Linked DNA regions of Homo sapiens. The protein of the gene in region 4 purifies or fractionates together with the protein of the main gene of each other region. This does not show direct contact. Each region holds a gene or a part of one and is shown on either strand. Other genes may lie near its edges. The genes, in order: PNPT1, NT5E, PLXNB3, MST1R, TMEM67 and POLDIP3.

Region 1 (3,500 bases), on a different chromosome or scaffold from region 4:
GCTTTTTTTTTTTTTGAGATGGAGTCTCGCTCTGTCGCCCAGGCTGGAGTGCAGTGGTGCGATCTCATCTCACTGCAACCTCTGCCTCCCGGCTTCAAGCGATTCTCCTGCCTCAGCCTCCTGAGTAGCTGGGATTACAGGCATGCACCACCATGCCTGGCTAACTTTTGTATTTTTAGTAGACATGGGGTTTCACCATGTTGGTCAGGCTGCTCTCGAACCCCCCACTTCCTGATCCACCTGCCTTGGCCTCCCAAAGAGCTGGGATTACAGGCGTGAGCCACCATGCACAGCCGAAATTGGATTTAAAAATATGTGCCAATTAAGCATTCAGATATGTTTAAAATAAGCCATCAAAAGAAAAAAAAAGAAATAAAGAAATATTGCTAAGTCTATTTTGGGCCTATTTAATATTTACTGGGAAAATTAATTTGGGGTTTCACCAATTACTAGTAGAAAATTTGGTTAAAGAATTCAGTTGGCCGGGCGCGGTGGCTCAAGCCTGTAATCCCAGTACTTTGGGAGGCCGAGGGGGGCGGATCACAAGGTCAGGAGATCGAGACCATCCTGGCTAACAAGGTAAAACCCCGTCTCTACTAAAAATACAAAAAATAATTAGCTAGGCGTGGTGGCGGGCACCTGCAGTCCCAGCTACCGGGGAGGATGAGGCAGAATGGCGTGAACCCGGGAGGCAGAGCTTGCAGTGAGCTGAGATCGCACCACTGCACTCCAGCCTGGGTGACAGAGCGAGACTCTGTCCCAAAAAAAAAAAAAAAAAAAAAAAAGAATTCAGTTAAGAGAACCTATCATAATTAGAACCACAGAACTGCTACTTTAATTTTATAAAATGATATAGAAAACAAAATATACTATACCTTAAAAAATAATGATTATATGGCAATTGGCATGTAATCTAAACACCTTATGATTTCAAAGTAAATGTAAAATTAAATTGGGATTATAATAGGAATCTGTTAAAAACCAAAACAGGGCTGGGCACGGTGGCTCATGCCTGTAATCCTGGCACTTTGGGAGGCTGAGGCAGGAGGATGGCTTGAGGCCAGGAGTTTAAGACCAACCTGGGCAACATAGTGAGACCATGTCTTTACAAAAAAATTAAAAAATCAGCCACGTGTGGTGGTGTGTGCTTGTAGTCCTAAATAGGAGGCTGAGGTGGGAGAACTGCCTGATCCCAGGAGTTCAAGGCAGCTGTGAGGTACAATGGCACCACTGTATCCCACTGTGGGTGGCAGGGTGAGACCCTGTCTCTAAAGAAAGGAAAATGCTCAGCATAGTATATTACTTGATATTACCTGATTTCAGTTATTGTGGCGGTATATACTGCTCCAAATTCTAATTGCTGCTCCTGCTGTAAGTGCAAAATAAGCCATAAGATTCATAAAGAAAACATCAACAAAAAGTAGAAAAAACAAATATAGCTATATGATACGTAATTAATATGATCTATACTTACATCATCCTTGCAGATTTCAGTAATGAAGTCTCTTGCCTCATGCATAGCACTGGGTGTTGGTGCAAATACAGAAAACGTTTCTTCATCCACCTGACTAATAGTTACACCTTTTAAAAACAAAATGTAACATATTAAAGTTAACTTGGCTGGGCATAGTGGGTCACATCTGTAATCCCAGCACTCTGGGGGGCTGAGGTGGGAGGATCACTTGAGCTCAGGAGTTCAAGGCCAGCCTGGGCAACATAGGGAGAGCCTGTTACTACAAAAAATAAATTCAAAAATTAGCTGGACCTGGTAGCATGTGCCCACCTACTTGGGACTCACAGTCGGGAGGATCACTTGATCCCAGGGGTCAAGGCTGGAGTTAGCTGTGATTGTGTACTGCACTCCAGTCTGGGTGACAGAGCAAGGCCCCATCTCAAAAAAAAAAAAAGTTAACTTGCTCATTCCAGTGGAAACTCGTCTTAAAAATAGATGTGAGAATAGGAGGGACCTATTAGTAGCTGGGTGGAGTTATGCTGTATTTAATCATTACTTTAGGAATGAAGGAATTCATTCATCAACAAATACACTCTGCATACTTGCTAGGTACCTGGCATTATACTAGGTAGGCCCTGGGGATACAATGGTGAGCCAATATGCTTGATTTCTTGAAATTCACCATCTAGTGAAATCAAATATATCTATACAAATTTTGGAGAGTCTGGTTCTGCTCTCTTAATTACGAGTAGAAACTATAATAGAACCCTTTCCTTACTTTTTTTCTTTCTCCCGCTTACTCTTACGAGGGGTGAATAAATGAATAAGGGACAAAATCACATCAGTTTCTCAGTGTTAGCAAATGGCTAAGGTGACAGTGCTTCTCACTCTCTTGCAGTAACCTCAAACCTTGAAGTACGAGGTAATTCAAACATTGCTTCAGGAAAAATAAATTAAAGCTTTTTTTTATATACTCTTTAAATAAAAGAGTTAAAATAAAACTAAGTGAAAGTAGCAGAATAAAAAGAAATAACTAAGTAATAATTCCTCTAAAGTTAAAAACTAAAAATTATTCTAGATGTTCAACTATAAAATGTTGCAAAAAAGTCCTGATGAATTCTTTGTAATCCTTCTTGAATTTAGTTAAGAATGACCATTTGCTAATTTATTAATAGGCACACAGAAAACTCACAGTCAAGACACGTCATATCCTTTTCTCCTGGTCTTTCTCTCATTTCTCAAATAAATATATATTTAAAGCAACATACTAGAGATGAAATAGCAAACTTTTATGGTCTAGCATTTAATTAAAAAACCCCAAACTTCATACAACTCTTACCTGTTTCAGCCTGAAGTTTTTTTAAGTTATAGCCACCAGGTCCAACAAATTTTGCTCGTTTTGATAATGGAACCTGAACAGTTTCTGGAACGTAATACAGACAAATATATAAACAATTCAACTACATACATGAACCTAAAACATGCCATGGTCACTTGAGATTTTTTTTTTTTTTGACCTAGACACATGTAAAAATATTTTACTATAAAACAGAAAAGTAGATGATTAAAATTACTGAAAACTGTTAAAGAATATTCCCTAAAATTTAAAGCATTTTAACTACAAAAGTATTTAAAATATTTTCGTTTTGTGCACTGGGTAAAAACAATTTAAAAGCAGTAATATTCATTCATATATTAATGTTTATCTTACCATGATCACTAAAATTTTTTTTTTTTTTTTTTTGAGACGGAGTCTCACTTTGTCGCCCAGGCTGGAGTGCAGTGGCGCGATCTCGGCTCACTGCAAGCTCCGCCTCCCGGGTTCATGCCATTCTCCTGCCTCAGCCTCCCGAGTAGCTGGGACTACAGGCGCCCGCCACCACGCCCGGCTAATTTTTTGTATTTTTTAGTAGAGACAGGGTTTCACCGTGTTAGCCAGGATGGTCTCGATCTCCTGACCTTGTGATCCGCTCGCCTCGGCCTCCCAAAGTGCTGGGATTACAGGCGTGAGCCACCGCGCCCAGCCGATCACTAAAATTTTAATGTA
Region 2 (3,500 bases), on a different chromosome or scaffold from region 4:
GGAAAAACCCTCCCAGCTACATAGGGAAATCACGGTTTTGGAAGATGAGCAGAAAAGGGTGGGAGGGAGAAGACAAGAGAGAAGAGGGTGAGGAAAGAGGCCAGGCAGCAGTCCAAGTGTGAGATGATAACACCTGAACTCTGGTAATTGAGGAGACCAAATCCACGGGAACCAGCTGCAAAAGGCATTCTGTCTGGTAGGTATAGGGCTAAGGGAGTAAACGTGGGGGTGAGACTGGGATCAAGTCCCCTTCCTACCACTTAGAATCTGTGGACTGGGAGCAGGTTATTTAATCTCATGAAACCTCCATTTCCACATGTGTGAGGTATGTGATTGTTGTCTCCACCCCTAGGGTGCTGTGGGGTTTACAAGAGATAGTAGTGCACATAATGTGCTTAGCACAGGGCCAGCCCCTAGTAAGTGCCGGCTGTACTTGCCTTCTCTTTGCAGGGGTGGCTCAGGAGAGGGTGTAATCAAAAGATGATTATGAGGGTTCAAGCACCAGGCAATGGGAGAGTCAGCAGGTTTTAATGCTTCCACACAGAGGCTGGATTCTTCTACTTCCGCTTACCGCTGACAGCTGAGGCCTGCTACCTCAAGCCCTGAAATGCAGTCTGAAGACTTTTCCTGGACTTACTGGGCACCATTGGACTGTACAGGGCTGTGGCAGACAGGAGCAGTGGAAAGAGATTTGGATGGGACGTCAGAACACCCAGATTTTACTTCTTGGCTCTTCCACTTACTAGCTGTGTGAATTTGGCAGTGGTTTCCTTATCTATAAAATGGGGGAATTGGAGAGGGTGGTCTACTGCATGTTACTTCTCAGCACCTCAGCTCCTCCCCACCCCTCTCTCTTGCTTCTAATCTGCCTACATCACTTGGTTTGTCTCTGGACAAGTCTAAGTTTGCATGACAACTCTCTAATTTCTCCTTCACAGTTATTTATTTATTTTTTGGCAGCTATTTCCTTGTGGAGAGATAGCGTAGGTCTTTCAGGTGCTTCCATTTGGCCACTGTTTGCAGGTGAAGAGGTTTCCAGGATGCTCGCGGGATGTTACTCTGGTAGTAACAGAAATGATGGCCTGGGGAATGGGAAGAGTATGAGCCCAGTTTTGAGCCTGAGTCTTTGGGGCTCATTTATTCATTCAATCTGCAAATCTTCATTCAGCATTACTACATGCCAGGCTCTCTGCTAAGTGCTGAGGATAGCGATCAGGACCTGCTAGGGTGAAAATTACTCTTCAGAAGATAGCAGAGTGGATAATGGCCATTCGAGTTCCTCTTAACTACACAGAGGGACTGGGTAAGATCTATAAAGGAGAGAGGTTAAACAGCAAAGCAAAAGTGACTGAAATTCTAACACCCATGCATGGGGATTCTTGAGCTAAAGATCTGGTCTGTAGAAGAAGACACATCAGACCCTCATATTTAGCATCTAAGCCGAAATCAGCAGTAAGCATGTTTCTTCTCCCATAAAAACTTGTCCCTAAGAAGAGAGACAAGTGCTTACAAGGACTCTTATGTTAAAGGAAACTGTCACAATTACTTTATCTTCAGTCATGAAGCCTTTCTTGAGGAAAGAAAAATTAGCAATACTAGTTTGGGAAGCTTGAAAGAGAGATTCTGTTTGCAATGACACTTTTAAAAAGGCAACAACAACCAAAAAAGTAATTATTCCTAAAGCTCAGGTGTCAGAAGTTGTGAATGTCTAGGGGGTTGTGGATCCCCAACCTCAGAGACAGGAACAGCACCACTCCCATCCTGGGGCTGTGGCCTCAGGCCTCTGCTTCCTCTTTTTCAGTCTAAATTCCAGAGCAGAGAGGTGCTGGATGACCAGCTTCAGGCAGGGGAGGGAGGAAGTAAAGGTAGTTTCTCAGCTCATCTTGTCCTCGTACTATTAATAGCATCTGTTGTTTTCTTAACTGAAAATTGGAGAGAACCAAACAAATCAACATCATATTGGCGGCTTTCTGCACATCACTCACAAATACATCTGAATGCTCTGTACTCTCCAGTGTTTATTTTCCTCAGCCACATAATCGGAATTTGAACATTCTTTTGACACTTCTTTTCCCTCACTTGAATAATTAGTTCTATATATAATCCAAATATTAGCTGGAGCCCTCTAGCCCCTCAGAGATATAGTTGAACCTTCCTGGACCTCAATTAGTTGGGCAGTTAATTCTGAATGTTGATGTGCCTATTTTGCACGTATGGAGAGTTTGTACGTCCCCCCTCCCCAAACAAGTAGAATGCTGTCTATTTGGTACTTGCTCATTCATACATTCTTTCAACAACCAAACCCAGTTGCAGCTGGGTTGAACCCCAGGGTGTTTCCTGCTATTCAGTGTGATGCCACATTCACCTGCTGTGGCCAACATTCCTTGGCCCAGGACTGCAGGGATGGAAGCCAACCCAACATCAGAAGTGGGCAACAATGCCAGAAACCTATCAACCAAAACAAATGTAATTTGTAATCCTCCCTGGATGATGTTGAGTGATTGGCAACTGAGCCCCGTCATATAGTAAATCAGGCTGTCTCTCTTTAAAAAAGAGAGACAGAGAGAGAGAGAGTCTCCCAATGTTGCCTAGGCTGGTCTCAAACTCCTGGGCTCAAGCAATCATCCCTTCTTGCCTCCCAAAATGCTGGGATTACAGGCATGAGCCACCATGCCCAGCCTAGGCTGTCTCTTTAGCTCTTCAATTATAGGGCTTCCTGCAACCTCAGCCCTTAACGAATGAGCTAGCGTGTAAGTGACTAGCTAAATAAATGTGCTGCAAACCTCTGACAAATGGCTTTTTGACATTATTAAAATTTATTTATGTGGAACAAAAAAATTCTTTTCTTCTGCATCATGCATCCTACACTGCTTTTAAAGAAACTCTGCTATCCTTTGTTTTACCGTCTAACATTTCTTTGTTTCCCTTCTGACATGTTTCAGCCTCTTGTCATCACTTGGAACATTTTTACTGCCTCATCCCTCTAGTTTCCATTTCCTAGCCTAGCCCAGCCCAGTATTTTTGAAACCCAAATACCTGGAATTTTGCCTGATGTTTAAAGCCAAAACCAAATGAAAATGTGAAGAACCAAAGGAGATTTTATTCTTCTGTGACTCAAAATCCTGTTGTTATTGTTAAATGAACCCTGTGGGATACAGTCTGGTATTTTTAACACCTTCTGGGGGTATTTGTCAATATTTACATTTGATGTGGATAGCTTATAAAAGTCCAGTGGCTTTGGGTAAACCCTGTTCACTAAGAATAAGACCCAGAAGGTCATATGAATCAACGATCAAAGAATGAAGATATTCTGAATCCAAGTTTCTTGTTTTGATTATTAAAAATACCTTGCAATTAGTTAGGCATGAGAGAAAGCTTGTGTATAAAGTTTGGCTTGTAATTCACATGAATTCTCTATACAGGCCAAAAACTACCTTCCCTTTGGGAATATACAATGACCTTATTTGGAAATTACTTCAGGTAATTATGAAGTAATAATA
Region 3 (3,500 bases), on a different chromosome or scaffold from region 4:
CAAGAGCCCTCAGCCCTTCAGAACTCAAAGGGCCTACTGCTGGGCGGGTCTGGGAAGGGTGGAGAAGGGACAGCCCTGTCTCTGCCCGAAGTTCGGGCCCACCCACCTCCTGGGCGCTGTAGATGGTCCTCTCGCCCTCTGGGCAGTGCTCTCCGTACACGCAGTGGCTACTCTGCGGGCACCAGTGACACCGCCAGATGCTGCCCACGCAAGCGCGACACCTAGAGGGGCAGGGTGGCTGCTCAACTGAGTGCCCTCTGGGGTCGCCACCCCTACCCCAGGAGGCAGGCCCAGGGACTCACGGGGCAGCCGCCTCCAAGGCCTGGACGGCACTGCAGTCATAAAAGGAGAAGTTGGTGGCAGCCACAGTCACGTCCTCGAACATCAGGGCCAGGGGCACAGTGACGTGGTCTGGGAGGGGACAGTGGGGGCAGGACAGGTCAGGTGGCTCATTACCCCTCCAGCCTCCATCCCAGCCCCCTACCCCATGGGCCACTCACCTGTGCCTGGAGGGTTAAGTGGCACCTGGTCTTGGGGAGGGGTGACACAGGCCACGTGGGGCCCTTCCACATGAGCCAAGCTGTCATAGTCCCCGAACGCACAATGGAAGTATTCATCTGCATCCAGGATGGGCAGCCGGGGGACAGACAAAGTGACCTGGGATGCAGCGGGGAGAAACCGGGAGATGTAGCCAGAGAGAGGGGGCAGCAGAGGCCATGGGAGAGGAAGGAGGACGGGAGGCAGGCGGGGTTCATGCTCCAGGCAGTGGTCATGCTGCCCAGAGGGCCCAGTGGTGGTGGGCGGCTTACCTGGCCCTGCTCCTGGCGGGGGTGGTGGCCCGGCAGCAGGCTCTGGATGTGCAGGCAGTGGCTGTCCTCCTCATAACTCCACAGCCACTGGTTCAGCTGGCCTGCCCGCCCGCACTGGCCCTTCCGGGTACACCTGCCAGGCAGGGGTCCATCAGGTCACCGTGGGGGTCCTAGACTCCAAGGATGACCGGCAACAGGGGCCTGGGGAGGCCGGCCCAGCTGGAGTGCAGTGGGGTGCAATGAGCAGGAGGCGTGAAGGGGACTGTGTCCAGAGAGAAAGGGGCCAAGCAGGCAGGGCCTCATGGCCAAGGCGTGGGCTCCAGCCCTGAGAGGCAGGTGCGGCTGGGCTGAGGGACGCACAGTGACTCAGGGCTGCCTTAAAGGATTCCAGGGGCTGCCGTGTGGAGCACCGGCTGGAGGACAGCTGTGTGGGGTTCTGGACCCTGGCTGGGGCTGCTGGGATGAGGAGTCCACAGGCCGGGTGGTGTCGGAAAAGGGGGGTGCCAACCAGATTGACGGCTCAGTGAGATGGGGCAGGATGGGTGACCTCCGTGGTGGCCCTGAGTCTCTCCAACAGGCAGGGTTGGCCTCCCGGCACGCCTAGGGCTACTTCCAGGGGCAGCCTCGTGGCACACACCACCCGTTGGCCCTAGCCTAGGCACAGGCCCCGTGCTCACCTGCCCTGGAGGACACACCAGCCACACAGCGGGTCCTGGGCCTGGAGGCAGCTGGCACAGTCAGGGAACTGGGGGCAGGCTGCCACAGGTATCCGGTCCACCTGGAGGGGCAGCAGAGCAGAGAGGCAATGGGCACGAGACTTGGGCCGCGTGTGCTGGCCCCTTCAGCCCCAGGATGGCCCTCACCTGGTGGGCAGTCAGGACATAGAGGTGACTGCCACTGCTGTCCAGCAGCAGGTCTGGGCTGATGGCTGAGCCTGGAGGCCCCACTTGCTGGGAGTGGTAAACCTGGCCCTGGGAGCCGTGGAGAAAGACCTGAGTGGGGGGACAAGGACGAGGCTGGGCCAGATGGCCAAAGGTTGCCTGTTCCAGGGACACGCCCTCCTCCTAGTGGGGGCTCCTTTTTAGAGCCAGTTCCCCTTCCTGCCGGGCCATCGAGGGAGGACACATCACTTCCCCCACTCAGCACCCTCAGGCCTAGGACACTCTCCAGGGAACCATGACACCGGGGCAGCAGCGGCACCCTGGGTGAGGCCCCGTGTACCAGGGACAGTTCTGCCAGGTGGGAGGGCAGCTATGGGGAGACAGGAAGGTCACCAGGAGGCACCACACCCTGCCCACCTCACCCAGCCACCCCAGCCACCTTCACCGTGAGCCACCACCAGCTGGTGAAGGCCGGGCTGCAGGGGGCAGTGCTCAGCCAGCAGTCACTGTGTGGCAAAGTCCCCTGACCCAACCGTGGGATGCGGGCTAAGAGGTGGAAGTTGCTGGGGGCTTTCCTGAGCCTCCGTGGCCAGGGGCACACCCAGCCGGACAGCAAGGCCGGGCCCTCACCTTGTACAGCTGGCCCTGGGTGTCCCCCAGGAAGGCTATCATGTGCCCATCTGCCTGGAGAGCTGCCACGGCGCTGACCGGCTGCCCGAGCTTCAGCAGAGGCTGGACCTCCAGGGGCTGGCGGCCAGCAATGGGGCTGGGGGTGTGCTCGTCGCCACAGGGGTACGACTCGGGGGAATCCTACGTGGCAGGAAGTGGAGAATCAGCCCCCGGAAGAGAGCAGAGAGGCAGTCAGGGGGGGTACCCAGGCTGCCAGCGGGAGGAGAGCCAGGCACCCTGGGATGACCCCAAGGCCCAGCAATCAGGGCCGAAGGGCCAGGGCACCTGGCAAGCTCATAGCATCCAGAGGGAGAAAGGTGGAAAGAAATGGGTGGAGAGCAGGCAGGAGACCTGGAGACTCAGCTGACCCCTGGCTGAGAGGTTGGCTGGCACTTCCCATGGGCAGGCACCCCTGTCCAGTGCTGAAAGATGCCAGCCATCCACAGAGAGGGGGGATGGAAGGGCATGCCACTCACAAGGGGCAGGGTGACGCAGCGCGACGTGACGCCGTACTCCACGGTGGCTTCCTCTGCGCCGCTGGGGCCCCGGCCGCCCGCCGTGTAGCAGAGTCTCCGGGCCTGCTCCATGCTGGCACCCAGCTCCACCATGGGGAAGGCACAGAGCGCCGCCTGGGTGCCCCTTGGGCCCGCGGCAAACACCCCTAGCAAGGTGCCCGGGGCAAGGAAGGCGGCCTGGATGAGGCCCTGGCCCTGGCAGGCGAGGGGGACCTCCACGTAGGAGTACAGGTTGGTGTCCCCCAGGCAGACGCGGGCCACGTAGGAGCGGTACTCAGCCTGGGCCCGGGCCCCGCGGCGGCGGAACACGAAGTAGGCGGAGCGGGCGTCGGCAAAGGCCCCGACGTAGCTGTTGTTGTAGTCGGAGAAGTCGCCCACCACCAGGCGGCCCAGGCCCTCGCTGGAGAAGGGCTGAGACCCGGCCAGCTGGCGGATGGCCAGGGGTGGCACCCCTGCCGACAGCTTGCCCGCCAGGCCTCTGGCCACAAGCAGGAGGTCCCGGCCGGGCAAGGGCACCACCAGCCCCACCGTTGCCACTCCCGGGGTATTGGCAGCCACAAACTGCCCGTCACCAGGGTCCTCAGCCTGGTACAGCACCTCGGCCACATCCCCAAGGCGCCGTGTCT
Region 4 (3,500 bases):
AGGCTGGAGTGCAGTGGCGCGATCTCGACTCACTGCAAGCTCCGCCTCCCAGGTTCATGCCATTCTCCTGCCTCAGCCTCCCAAGTAGCTGGGACTACAGGCGCCTGCCACCGTGCCCGGCTAATTTTTTGTATTTTTAGTAGAGATGGGGTTTCACCGTGTTAGCCAGGATGGTCTCGATCTCCTGACCTCATGATCCACCCGCCTCAGCCTCCCAAAGTGCTGGGATTACAGGTGTGAGCCACCGCGCCCGGCCTATTTTATTTTTTCAAGATGGAGTCTTGCTCTATCACCCAGGCTGGAGTGCAGTGGTGCAATCTTGGCTCACTGCAACCTCCCCCTCCCAGGTTCAAGCAATTCTCCTGCCTCACCCTCCCTAGTAGCTGGGATTACAGGCGCCCGCCACCACACCTGGCTAATTTTTGTATTTTTAGTAGAGATGGGGTTTCACCATGTTGGCCAGGCTGGTCTCAAACTCCTAACCTCAGGTGATCTGCCTGCCTTGATCTCCCAAAGTGCTGGGATTACAGGCGTGAGCCACTGTATCCAGCCTATTTATTTATTTATTTATTTATTTATTTATTTATTTATTTTTGAGACAGAACCTCACTCTGTCACCCAGGCTGGAGTGCAGTGGCATGATCTCAGCTCACTGCAACCTCTGCCTCCCGGATTCAAGTGATTCTCCTGCCTCAGCCTCCTAAGTAGCTGGGATTACAGACGTGCACCACCAAGCCCGTCTAATTTTTGTATTTTTAGTAGAAATGGAGTTTCATCATGTTGGCCAGGCTGGTCTCAAACTCCCGACCTCAGGTGATCCGCCCGCCTCGGCCTCCCGAAGTGCTGGGATTACAGGCGTGAGCCATCGCACCCGACCCTGCTTTATTTACTTATTTATTTATTTTTATTTTTTTGAGACAGAGTCTCACTCTATTGCCCAGGCTGGAGTGCAGTAGTGCAATCTCGGCTCACTGCAACCTCTGCCTCCTGGATTCAAGCATTTCTCCTGCCTCAGCCTCCTGAGTAGCTGGGATTACAGGGGCCTGCCACTGCCACCACACCTGTCTAATTTTTGTAGTTTTAGTAGAGACGGGGTTTCATCATGTTGGCCAGACTGGTCTTGAACCCCTGACCTCAGCTGATCCTCCCGCCCCAGCATCCCAAAGTATTAGGATTAAAGGCATGAGCCTTTTTTTTTTTTTTTTAATTTAAAAAAAAGACAGCATCTCACTATGTTACCCAGGCTGGCCTTGAACTCCTGGGCTTATGCGATTCTCTTGCCTCAGCCTCCTGAGTAACTGGGATTACAGGCGCACTGCGCTTGGCTTCTGCTGCTTTTCTTTGAGGGGGATGGAGTCTCGCCCTGTCTCTCAGGCTGGAGTGCAGTGACACGATCTTGGCTCACTGCAACCTCTGCCTCCCGGGTTCAAGCTATCCTCCTGCCTCAGGCTCCCAAGCAGCTGGGACTAGAGATGGGGTTTCACCATATTAGCCAGGCTGGTCTCAAACTCCTGACCTCGTGATCCACCCGCCTTGGCCTCTCAAAGTGCTGGCATTACAGGTGTGAGCCACTGCACGCAGCCCTGCTGCTTTTTTAAAATGTCAGATTGGGCCGGGTGTGGTGGCTCACACCTGTAATCCCAGCACTTTGGGAGGCCTAGGTGGGTGAATCACAAGATCAGGAGTTTGAGACCAGCCTGGCCAACATGGTGAAACCCAGTCTCTACTAAAAATACAAAAAAATTAGCTGTGTGTAGTGGCAGTTGCCTGTAATCCCAGCTACTCAGGAGGCTGAGGCAGGAGAATCACTTGAACCTGGGAGGCAGAGGTTGCAATGAGTTGAGATTGCACCACTGCACTTCAGCCTGGGCAAGAGTGAGACTCGGTCTCAAAAAAAATAAATAAAAATTAAAAATAAATAAAATGTCAGATTGGCCAGTTTAGTGCTCTGAGGTCTGGTTGCCAATGAGAATGTGTGGTGTGAGCCTTGGGCCCTGGATCCCCTCTCATCGACTCATTATGCACCTCACACCAGGCCACTTTGGAGTTGTCTACCACGGAGAATACATAGACCAGGCCCAGAATCGAATCCAATGTGCCATCAAGTCACTAAGTCGTAAGTGGGGCAGAAGATGGGAAGGCAGAGGGAGGGGCCTCAGGCTGGGAGGATTCTTTTTCTCTGTGTTCCCACCTTACTGAGTGACCCTGAGCAGGAGACCTTCATTTCCCATTTCCCCATCTGAGCCTTATAAAGGGACGCCCTGCCCTGTGCCTGACTTGCGCTGCTCTGCAGGCATCACAGAGATGCAGCAGGTGGAGGCCTTCCTGCGAGAGGGGCTGCTCATGCGTGGCCTGAACCACCCGAATGTGCTGGCTCTCATTGGTATCATGTTGCCACCTGAGGGCCTGCCCCATGTGCTGCTGCCCTATATGTGCCACGGTGACCTGCTCCAGTTCATCCGCTCACCTCAGCGGGTCAGTGTTCATCTGGCTCTGGGTTGGGGGCTGGGCAGCAGCTGGAGAAGGAGCTGCTGTGCCCTTGCCCACCAACCCACCTGTGCCCCCAGAACCCCACCGTGAAGGACCTCATCAGCTTTGGCCTGCAGGTAGCCCGCGGCATGGAGTACCTGGCAGAGCAGAAGTTTGTGCACAGGGACCTGGCTGCGCGGAACTGCATGTGAGAGTCCAGAGTAGCTGGGGTGAAGCAAAAGGACAGGGCATGAGGGTGTGCGGTGCTCAAGGCCGCCTCAGGGAAGGGCCCACTCCAGCCTTGTCCTCCCCTCTCTGCACCTTACTTTTTTTGTCTGCCCAGTGCAGACTTGGACTGGACACTGTGGCTTTGAAATTTGGCCAGGCGCGGTGGCTCACGTCTGTAATCCCAGCACTTTGGGAGGCTGAGGAAGGCGGATCATGAGGTCAGGAGATCGAGACCATCCTGGCTAACACGGTGAAACCCCGTCTCTACTAAAAATACAAAAAGATTAGCCAGGCGTGGTGGCGGGCCCCTGTAGTCCCAGCTACTCAGGAGGCTGAGGCGGGAGAATGGCGTGACCCCAGGAGGCAGAGCTTGCAGTGAGCGGAGATCGCGCCACTGCACTCCAGCCTGGGTGACAGAGCGAGACTCCGTCTCAAAAAAAAAAAAAATTCTGTAAGGGCCTAGAACAGGTGGGTTCAGGGCCTGGTAAGGGCCAGTCCTAAGTGTGATCCTCTCCCTACCCCTAAGGCTGGACGAGTCATTCACAGTCAAGGTGGCTGACTTTGGTTTGGCCCGCGACATCCTGGACAGGGAGTACTATAGTGTTCAACAGCATCGCCACGCTCGCCTACCTGTGAAGTGGATGGCGCTGGAGAGCCTGCAGACCTATAGATTTACCACCAAGTCTGATGTGGTGAGGCCCCACCTGCCCTACAGTCCACATGGCTTTGGCACCCAAGAACACTGGGCCTCACCCATTCAGCTCTGAATGATCTGAGCCCAGGGAGTCCCCAGGGTAGATGAC
Region 5 (3,500 bases), on a different chromosome or scaffold from region 4:
CAACTTAAAATTTTTCCCATTAATACACGAATAACTATTTCCCTGTATCCTTATAAATACATTGTCAAAGTTGAAAAAGTTTCTTTTTTATTTTGAGATGGAGTTTCACTCTTGTTGCCCAGGCTGGAGTGCAATGGCGTGATCTTGGCTCACTGTAACCTCCACCTCCTTGGGTTCAAGCAATTCTCCTGCCTCAGCCTCCAAGAAACTGGGATTACAGGCATGTGCCACCATGCCAGGCTAATTTTGAGTTTTTAATAGCGACTACATTCGTCAGGCTGGTCTTGAACTCCTGAACTCAGGTGATCCACCTGCCTCGGCCTCCCAAAGTGCTGGATTACAAGCGTGAGCCACTGTGCCCGGTCGAAAAAATTTTATAATAAAATCTGGTAGGTTAAAAATAAAATCTCATTTTAGCTTTAACGTACATTTTCTTACTCTGAGTAAAGTTGAACATTTTTTTCTCACGTTAAAATATTTTTTTCTATGTGAACTTTATTTATGACTCTTGGCTATTTTAAAAATTGGGTTATTCATCTTACTTTTATTTATCTGTAGGAGCTTTACATTTATTGAAGAACTTCGACCTCTGTCTATTGTATGCATTAATATTTTTCTTTAGTTTGTAGTTTGGTTTTTGGTATTATAATTTTTATGGCATTTTATAAATTTACCAATTTTTTCTTCTGTGGTTTTTCTTTTTTTCTTTTTTTTTTGTAGACACAGAGTCTCTCTATATTGCCCAGGCTGGTCAGGAACTCCATGGCTCAAGTAATCGTCCCACCTAGGCCTCCAAAGTGACTGAGTATTTTTGGTCATACTTAGGCCTGTTAAACCAAAACTATACAAATTTTTCCTGCATTTTCTTTAAGAACTTTCATATATTCATATTTAGTATTTGACTCATTTGGAGTTTAATTTTCTCAGAAATAAGGTAGAAACCCAACCTGGGTGTTTTCTCAGTTTTCCCAGCATCATTAATCAGTTTTATCCCCACTTATATGAAATGCCACTTTTTTCACATACCAAATTCCTATATGAATTGAATCTATTCTGATTGCCTGTTTTAAGTTCCATCAATCAGTCTGTGTATCCATAAGCCTGTCATATATGTGATTATAGTAGCTATATAACATGCATATTATCTGATGGGGTAGTTCCTTCTTTCCCTTCCCAGAATTTTCTTAGCTTTTCATATAACTTTCCTGTTAAACTTCAGACTCTATTTGTATATTACCCCAAAACAAACAAATAATATCCTGATAGAATTTATTAGGGTCCTTTAAAATATACAGACTGGTAGAAGAGTTGCATCTTTCTAATATTTAATCTTCCCATCCAAAAATAAAGAATGCATTTTCACTTAAAAGCCTGCCTTCATATCCCTCAGTAATACTCACAAATTTCTTCAATTATGTTGTACATTCCTTCTAAAGTACATGCCAAGGTCAGGTGCGGTGGCTCAAGCCTGTATCCCAGCACTTTGGGAGGCTGAGGCAGGCAGATCACCTGAGGTCGGAAGTTCAAGACCAGCCTGACCAACATGGAGAAACCCTGTTAGCCACTAAAAATATAAAATTAGCCAGGTGTGGTGGCACATGCCTATAATCCCAACTACTCGGGAGGCTGAGGCAGGAGAATCGCTTGAACCTGAGAGGGAGGTTGCAGTGAGCCAAGATCACACCATTGCACTCTAGCCTGGGCAACAACAGTGAAAACTCTGTCTCAAAAAAAAAAAAACAAAAATAAAAATTAAAATTAAAAAAAAGGATATGCCTACTTATTTTTTCTTTTTTGTTGCTACTGTATATGAGGTATTTTCTTCCATCACTGTTTATAATAATTTTTAGTCATTCTGTTGGGTGTTTTAAACATACAATCAAATCATCTGTAAACAATGATATTTTACTTTTTTTTTTTTTTTTTTTCATGAGACAGGGTCTTACCCTGTCGCTCAGGCTGGAGTGCAGTGGCGCCATCTCAGCTCACTGTAGCCTTGACCTTCCAGGCTCAAGCGATCTTCCCACCTTTGCCTCTCGAGTAGCTGGGACTACAGGTGCATGCCACCGTAACCAAATAATTTTTTTTTTTATTTGTAGAGATGCGGTTTCACCATGTTGCCCAGACTGGTCTCAAACTCTTGAGCTCAAGCAATACACCTGCCTTAGCCTTCCAAAGTGCTAGGATTAACAACGGCCTACCTTTTCTTTTCCAATGATAAATATTTTTTTTCTCTTACTTAAGTGCATAGTTTGCATCCTTTTCCAGGTCCTGACATTAACAGGAATGCTTACGCTTTTTCCCTATTAAGTATCAAGTTGGCTTTTGAGTTGAGACATATTTTGTCATGTTATGTTAAGGAAATAACCATCTAATCCTACAATATTAAGAGTTTTAAAAAACTCAGACAAAACTTTGTATTTTCTTCTCAATGCCTGCTGATGTTTTAAGTATCATTAATTTGTACAAAAATAATTTTTATAAACACTATTAAGGGCTGGACACAGTGACTGATGCCTATAATCCCAGCACTTTAGGAGGCTGAGGCAGGAAGATCTCTCGAGGCCAGGAGTTCAAGACCAGGCTGAGCAACATAACGAGACCCAGTCTCTACAAAAAATTTAAAAATTAGCCAGCTGCAGTGGTGTTATGTGTGCAGTCCCAGCTACTCAGGAAGCTGAGGCAGGAGAATTGCTTGAGCCACTGCAAAAATATTAAGTAATCACTTAACTATTTAAATTAGTGCCCTTTTCAAATAAAAACAAAAACAAGAATGAAGATTTATCACTACTTCTTTATAAGGAATCTAATTCTTACCTAAAATATGGCCAATGGGACAGTGACATTTTCCTTCGGCAGTTAAGTCACTAGGGCAAGAAATGCAGTTCCAGCCATCTTCTGTAACACCTTTCTAAATTAAAAGAAAAAAAATGCTTTTCTCTTTTTTAATTAACTTTCTTCTTCTAATCATGTAAGTTCAAAATGCCATAAGAGTATGTAACTACAGTGAATATTCAAATAAATCATACATATATGAGCCACATAAAAATTCCCTGGAGAGATAATTCATGCTTATATTCCAAAATGAAGCTCTATATTATCACTATGTCCTGAAAACTATTAAAGGATTAACTCCGGATAATAGTTCTCTCTTCTTCAGGATCTTTAATTCAAATGGATGCCTCTTTCATAATTATTTGTCATTTCGTTTTTCCATTTACAAATATAAAACACAACACAACACAAAAAGATTGAATCAACGGTCAGTTAATAGGTTAATCTTACCTGTTCTAAAACTCTATTCTAATTTTTAAAAATTCAAATACCTAAAAAATTTAGTCCAGGCACAGTGGCTCACGTCTGTAATTCCAGCACTTTGGGAGGCCAAGGTGGGTGGATCACTTGAGGCCAAAGCTTGAGGCCAGCCTGGCCAATGTGGTGAAACCTCGTCTCTACTAAAAATACAAAAATTAGCTGGGCGTGGTGGTGTATGCCTATAA
Region 6 (3,500 bases), on a different chromosome or scaffold from region 4:
TGGTGTGATCTTGGCTCACTGCAGCCTGGACCTCCTGGGCTTAGTTGATCCTCCTGCCTTGGCCTTCTGAGTAGCTGGGACTACAGATGTGCATCATCACTTGCAGCTAATTTTTTTTTGGGGGGGGGGGTAAGGTTATAGATTAACAGCATCCCAAGGCAGAAGAATTTTTCTTAGTACAGAACAAAATGAAGTCTCCCACGTCTACTTCTTTCTACACAGACACAGTAACAATCTGATCTCTCTTTTCCCCACATTTCCCCCTTTTCTATTCGACAAAACCGCCATCGTCTTCATGGCCCGTTCTCAATGAGCTGTTGGGTACACCTCCCAGACGGGGTGGCGGCCGGGCAGAGGGGCTCCTCACTTCCCAGACGGGGTGGTGGCTGGGTGGAGGCGCCCCCCACCTCCCGAACAGGGCGGCTGGCTGTGCGGGGGCTGCCCCCCACCTCCCTCCCAGACGGGGCGGCTGCCGGGCGGAGACGCTCCTCACTTCCCAGACGGGGCGGCTGCTGGGCGGAGGGGCTCCTCACTTCCCAGACGGGGTGGCCGGGCAGAGAAGCTCCTCACCTCCCAGACGGGGTGGCGGTCGGGCAGAGACACTCCTCAGTTCCCAGATGGGGTCGCGGCCGGGCAGAGGCGCTCCTCACATCCCAGACGGGGCAGCGGGGCAGAGGCTCTCCCCACATCTCAGACGATGGACGGCCGGGCCGAGACGCTCCTCACTTCCTAGATGGGATGGCGGCCGGGAAGAGGCGCTCCTCACTTCCCAGACTGGACGGCCGGGCAGAGGGGCTCCTCACATCCCAGACGATGGGCGGCCAGGCAGAGACGCTCCTCACTTCCCAGACGGGGTGGCAGCCGGGCAGAGGCTGCAATCTCGGCACTTTGGGAGGCCAAGGCAGGCGGCTGGGAGGTGGAGGTTGTAGCGAGCCGAGATCACTCCACTGCATTCCAGCCTGGGCAACGAGCACTGATTGAGCGAGACTCCGTCTGCAATCCCGGCACCTCGGGAGGCCGAGGCAGGCAGATCACTTGCGGTCGGGAGCTGGAGACCAGCCCGGCCAACACAGCGAAACCCCGTCTCCACCAAAAAATACAAAAACCAGTCAGGCATGGCGGTGCGCGCCTGCAATCCCAGGCACTCGGCAGGCTGAGGCAGGAGAATCAGGCAGGGAGGCTGCAGTGAGCCGAGATGGCGGCAGTACAGTCCAGCCTCGGCTCGGCATCAGAGGGAAACTGGGGAGAGGGGGAGGGGGAGGGAATTTTTTTTGTATCTTTTGTAGAGACAGGGTTTTGCCATGTTGCCCAGGCTGGTTTCGAACACCTGGGCTCAAGCGATCTGCCCGCCTTGGCCTCCCAAAGTGTTGGGATTACAGGCATGAGCTACTGCTCCTGGTGTTTTTTATTTTTTAGAAGTTTTTTTCTTAACTCTTCCAGCTCTGCTGTTTACTCTTGACCCATGCTTATTTAATTGATGCTTGAACCAGGTACAGTGAAGTTCAAGTCCATTCCTCACCCCTTAGTAGCTCTTGGGATAGTTAATCTCCTTGGTTCTGAGTTTCCTCATTTATAAGATGTGAACAATAACCTGATTCACGGGGTTGTAACATTTAAAGGACGTCTAAAGCTGGGCATGGTGGCTCCATACTTAGAAGGCTGAGGCAGGAGGTCAAGGCTGTAGTGAGCTATGATCACTGCACTCCATCCTGAGCAGCAGAATGAGATTCTGTCCTTTTAAATTTTTTAAAATATGTTTTTGAGACAGGGTCTTGCTCTGTTGTCCAGCCTGGAGGACAGTATCTCGATCCTGGCTCACGGCAACATTGCAGTCTGGGGCTCAGGTGGTCTTCCTGCTTCAGCCTGTGGAGTAGACTCATGCTGCCATGCCCAGATAATTTTCTGCTTTCATTTTTATAGAGATGGAGTCTCACTATATTGCCCAGGCTGGTCCTGAACTCCTGGGCTCAAGCCATCCTCCTGCCTCAGCTTTCCAAAGTGCTGAGATTACATGGTGTGAGCCACCATGCCCAGGGAGTCTCGCTATGTTGCCCGTGCTGTTCTCGATCTCCTGGGCTCAAGCCATCCTGCCATTTGGCCTCCCAAAGTGCTGAGATTACAGGCATGAGCCACTGTGCCCAGCCTTGTTTCTTAAAAAAAAAAAAAAGTCTGTGTGAAAAATTGTCAACCTGTAGTGAGTAATACTCAGAAGTTTTCATTGATCATGTCCTTTATTTTTTTTGAAACAGAGTCTTGCTCTGTCGCCCAGGCTGGAGTGCAGTGGTGTGATCTTGGCTTGCTGTAACCTCCATCTCCTGGGTTCAACTGATTCTCCTGCCTCAGCCTTCCGAGTAGCTAGGATTATAGGCGCGTGCCACCACGTCTGGCTAATTTTTGTATTTTTAGTAGGGACGGGGTTTCACCATGTTGGCCAGGCAGGTCTTGAACACCTCACCTCAAGTAATCCATCAGCCTCGGCCTCCCAAAGTGCTGGGATTACAGGTGTGAGTCACTGTGCCTGGCCTAGCTGCAAGTTTCTGAGGTCACCCCAAAGCATAGTCCCAGTTTGTCTATGGCTTTGTAGGCCATGGAACACGAAGCCTAGGGTAGCCCAGTCCTAGGGAGGGTGGATGCCATCTACCACATACAACCATTTCTTTCTAATCGTGCATGCCGACCCCCTGAACACTCCCTTCCTTTGGCCCTGCTTTCTCTAGTGCCTCCATCTCCCAGAGTCCTCACATTAAAAAAATAGGACAGGAATGGCCAAGTAAACCTTAAGCCTTATCTGATTAATTGTATAAATGACCCTTCTACCCAGAACCCACTGGAAAATCTTTAAATCTGAATTTGCCACTCCAAAGAGAAAAATGATAGCATGCATCACTGCCTGTTTTAGTCCGTTTAGGCTACTATAAGAAAATACCCTAAGCTGGGTAACTTATAAAAAACAGAAACTGCCGGGCGCAGTGGCTCACGCCTGTAATCGTAACGCTTTGGAGGCCAAGGCAGGCGGATCACGAGGTCAGGAGATCGACAGCATCCTGGCTAACACGGTGAAACCCCATCTTTACTAAAAATGCAAAAAATTAGCCGGCCGTGGTGGCGGGCGCCTGTAGTCCCAGCTACTTGGGAGGCTGGCGCAGGAGAATGGCATGAACCCGGGAGGCGGAGCTTGCGGTGAGCCAAGATTGCGCCACTGCACTCCAGCCTGGATGACAGAGCAAGACTCCATCTCAAACAAAACAAAACAAAACTGAAGAAAAGAAACTTCCTTGTCACAGAGAGTCTGGGAAGTCCAGGATCAGGATGCTGGCAGATTCCATGTCTGATGAGGGCCTGCCTGCTTCCTGGTTGTAGATGGTCTTTTTGCTGAGTCCTGACATGGTGGAAGGGGCCAAGGAGCTTTCTGGGGCTTCTTCCTTATAAAGGGCACTAATCCCATTTGTGAAGTCTCTGTCCTCATGACTTAATCACTTCCCAAAGGCCACCACCTTCTA

What was found.
Region 1: the proteins of MST1R (region 4) and PNPT1 fractionate together in Homo sapiens (co-fractionation; one large-scale study listed by BioGRID). This does not show direct contact.
Region 2: the proteins of MST1R (region 4) and NT5E fractionate together in Homo sapiens (co-fractionation; one large-scale study listed by BioGRID). This does not show direct contact.
Region 3: the proteins of MST1R (region 4) and PLXNB3 purify together in Homo sapiens (co-immunoprecipitation; one study listed by IntAct). This does not show direct contact.
Region 5: the proteins of MST1R (region 4) and TMEM67 fractionate together in Homo sapiens (co-fractionation; one large-scale study listed by BioGRID). This does not show direct contact.
Region 6: the proteins of MST1R (region 4) and POLDIP3 purify together in Homo sapiens (affinity purification with mass spectrometry; one large-scale study listed by BioGRID and IntAct). This does not show direct contact.

Annotation. Positions count from the first base shown.
Region 1 is NC_000002.12:55,641,845-55,645,344, forward strand, and holds part of PNPT1 (polyribonucleotide nucleotidyltransferase 1, mitochondrial precursor), read right to left. Parts: intron 2,877-3,500; coding exon 2,793-2,876; intron 1,582-2,792; coding exon 1,475-1,581; intron 1,370-1,474; coding exon 1,314-1,369; intron 1-1,313. UniProt on the Homo sapiens protein: RNA-binding protein implicated in numerous RNA metabolic processes. Catalyzes the phosphorolysis of single-stranded polyribonucleotides processively in the 3'-to-5' direction. Mitochondrial intermembrane factor with RNA-processing exoribonulease activity.
Region 2 is NC_000006.12:85,456,583-85,460,082, forward strand, and holds part of NT5E (5'-nucleotidase isoform 1 preproprotein), read left to right. Parts: intron 1-3,500. UniProt on the Homo sapiens protein: Catalyzes the hydrolysis of nucleotide monophosphates, releasing inorganic phosphate and the corresponding nucleoside, with AMP being the preferred substrate. Shows a preference for ribonucleotide monophosphates over their equivalent deoxyribose forms.
Region 3 is NC_000023.11:153,767,249-153,770,748, reverse strand, and holds part of PLXNB3 (plexin-B3 isoform 1 precursor), read right to left. Parts: coding exon 2,836-3,500; intron 2,501-2,835; coding exon 2,321-2,500; intron 1,802-2,320; coding exon 1,673-1,801; intron 1,588-1,672; coding exon 1,487-1,587; intron 943-1,486; coding exon 810-942; intron 658-809; coding exon 501-657; intron 412-500; coding exon 303-411; intron 222-302; coding exon 107-221; intron 1-106. UniProt on the Homo sapiens protein: Receptor for SEMA5A that plays a role in axon guidance, invasive growth and cell migration. Stimulates neurite outgrowth and mediates Ca(2+)/Mg(2+)-dependent cell aggregation.
Region 4 is NC_000003.12:49,890,374-49,893,873, reverse strand, and holds part of MST1R (macrophage-stimulating protein receptor isoform 1 preproprotein), read left to right. Parts: intron 1-2,035; coding exon 2,036-2,116; intron 2,117-2,293; coding exon 2,294-2,475; intron 2,476-2,567; coding exon 2,568-2,677; intron 2,678-3,223; coding exon 3,224-3,389; intron 3,390-3,500. UniProt on the Homo sapiens protein: Receptor tyrosine kinase that transduces signals from the extracellular matrix into the cytoplasm by binding to MST1 ligand. Regulates many physiological processes including cell survival, migration and differentiation.
Region 5 is NC_000008.11:93,757,894-93,761,393, reverse strand, and holds part of TMEM67 (meckelin isoform 1 precursor), read right to left. Parts: intron 2,912-3,500; coding exon 2,818-2,911; intron 1,535-2,817; coding exon of another isoform or gene 1,401-1,534; intron 1-1,400. UniProt on the Homo sapiens protein: Required for ciliary structure and function. Part of the tectonic-like complex which is required for tissue-specific ciliogenesis and may regulate ciliary membrane composition.
Region 6 is NC_000022.11:42,604,884-42,608,383, reverse strand, and holds part of POLDIP3 (polymerase delta-interacting protein 3), read left to right. Parts: intron 1-3,500. UniProt on the Homo sapiens protein: Is involved in regulation of translation. Is preferentially associated with CBC-bound spliced mRNA-protein complexes during the pioneer round of mRNA translation. Contributes to enhanced translational efficiency of spliced over nonspliced mRNAs.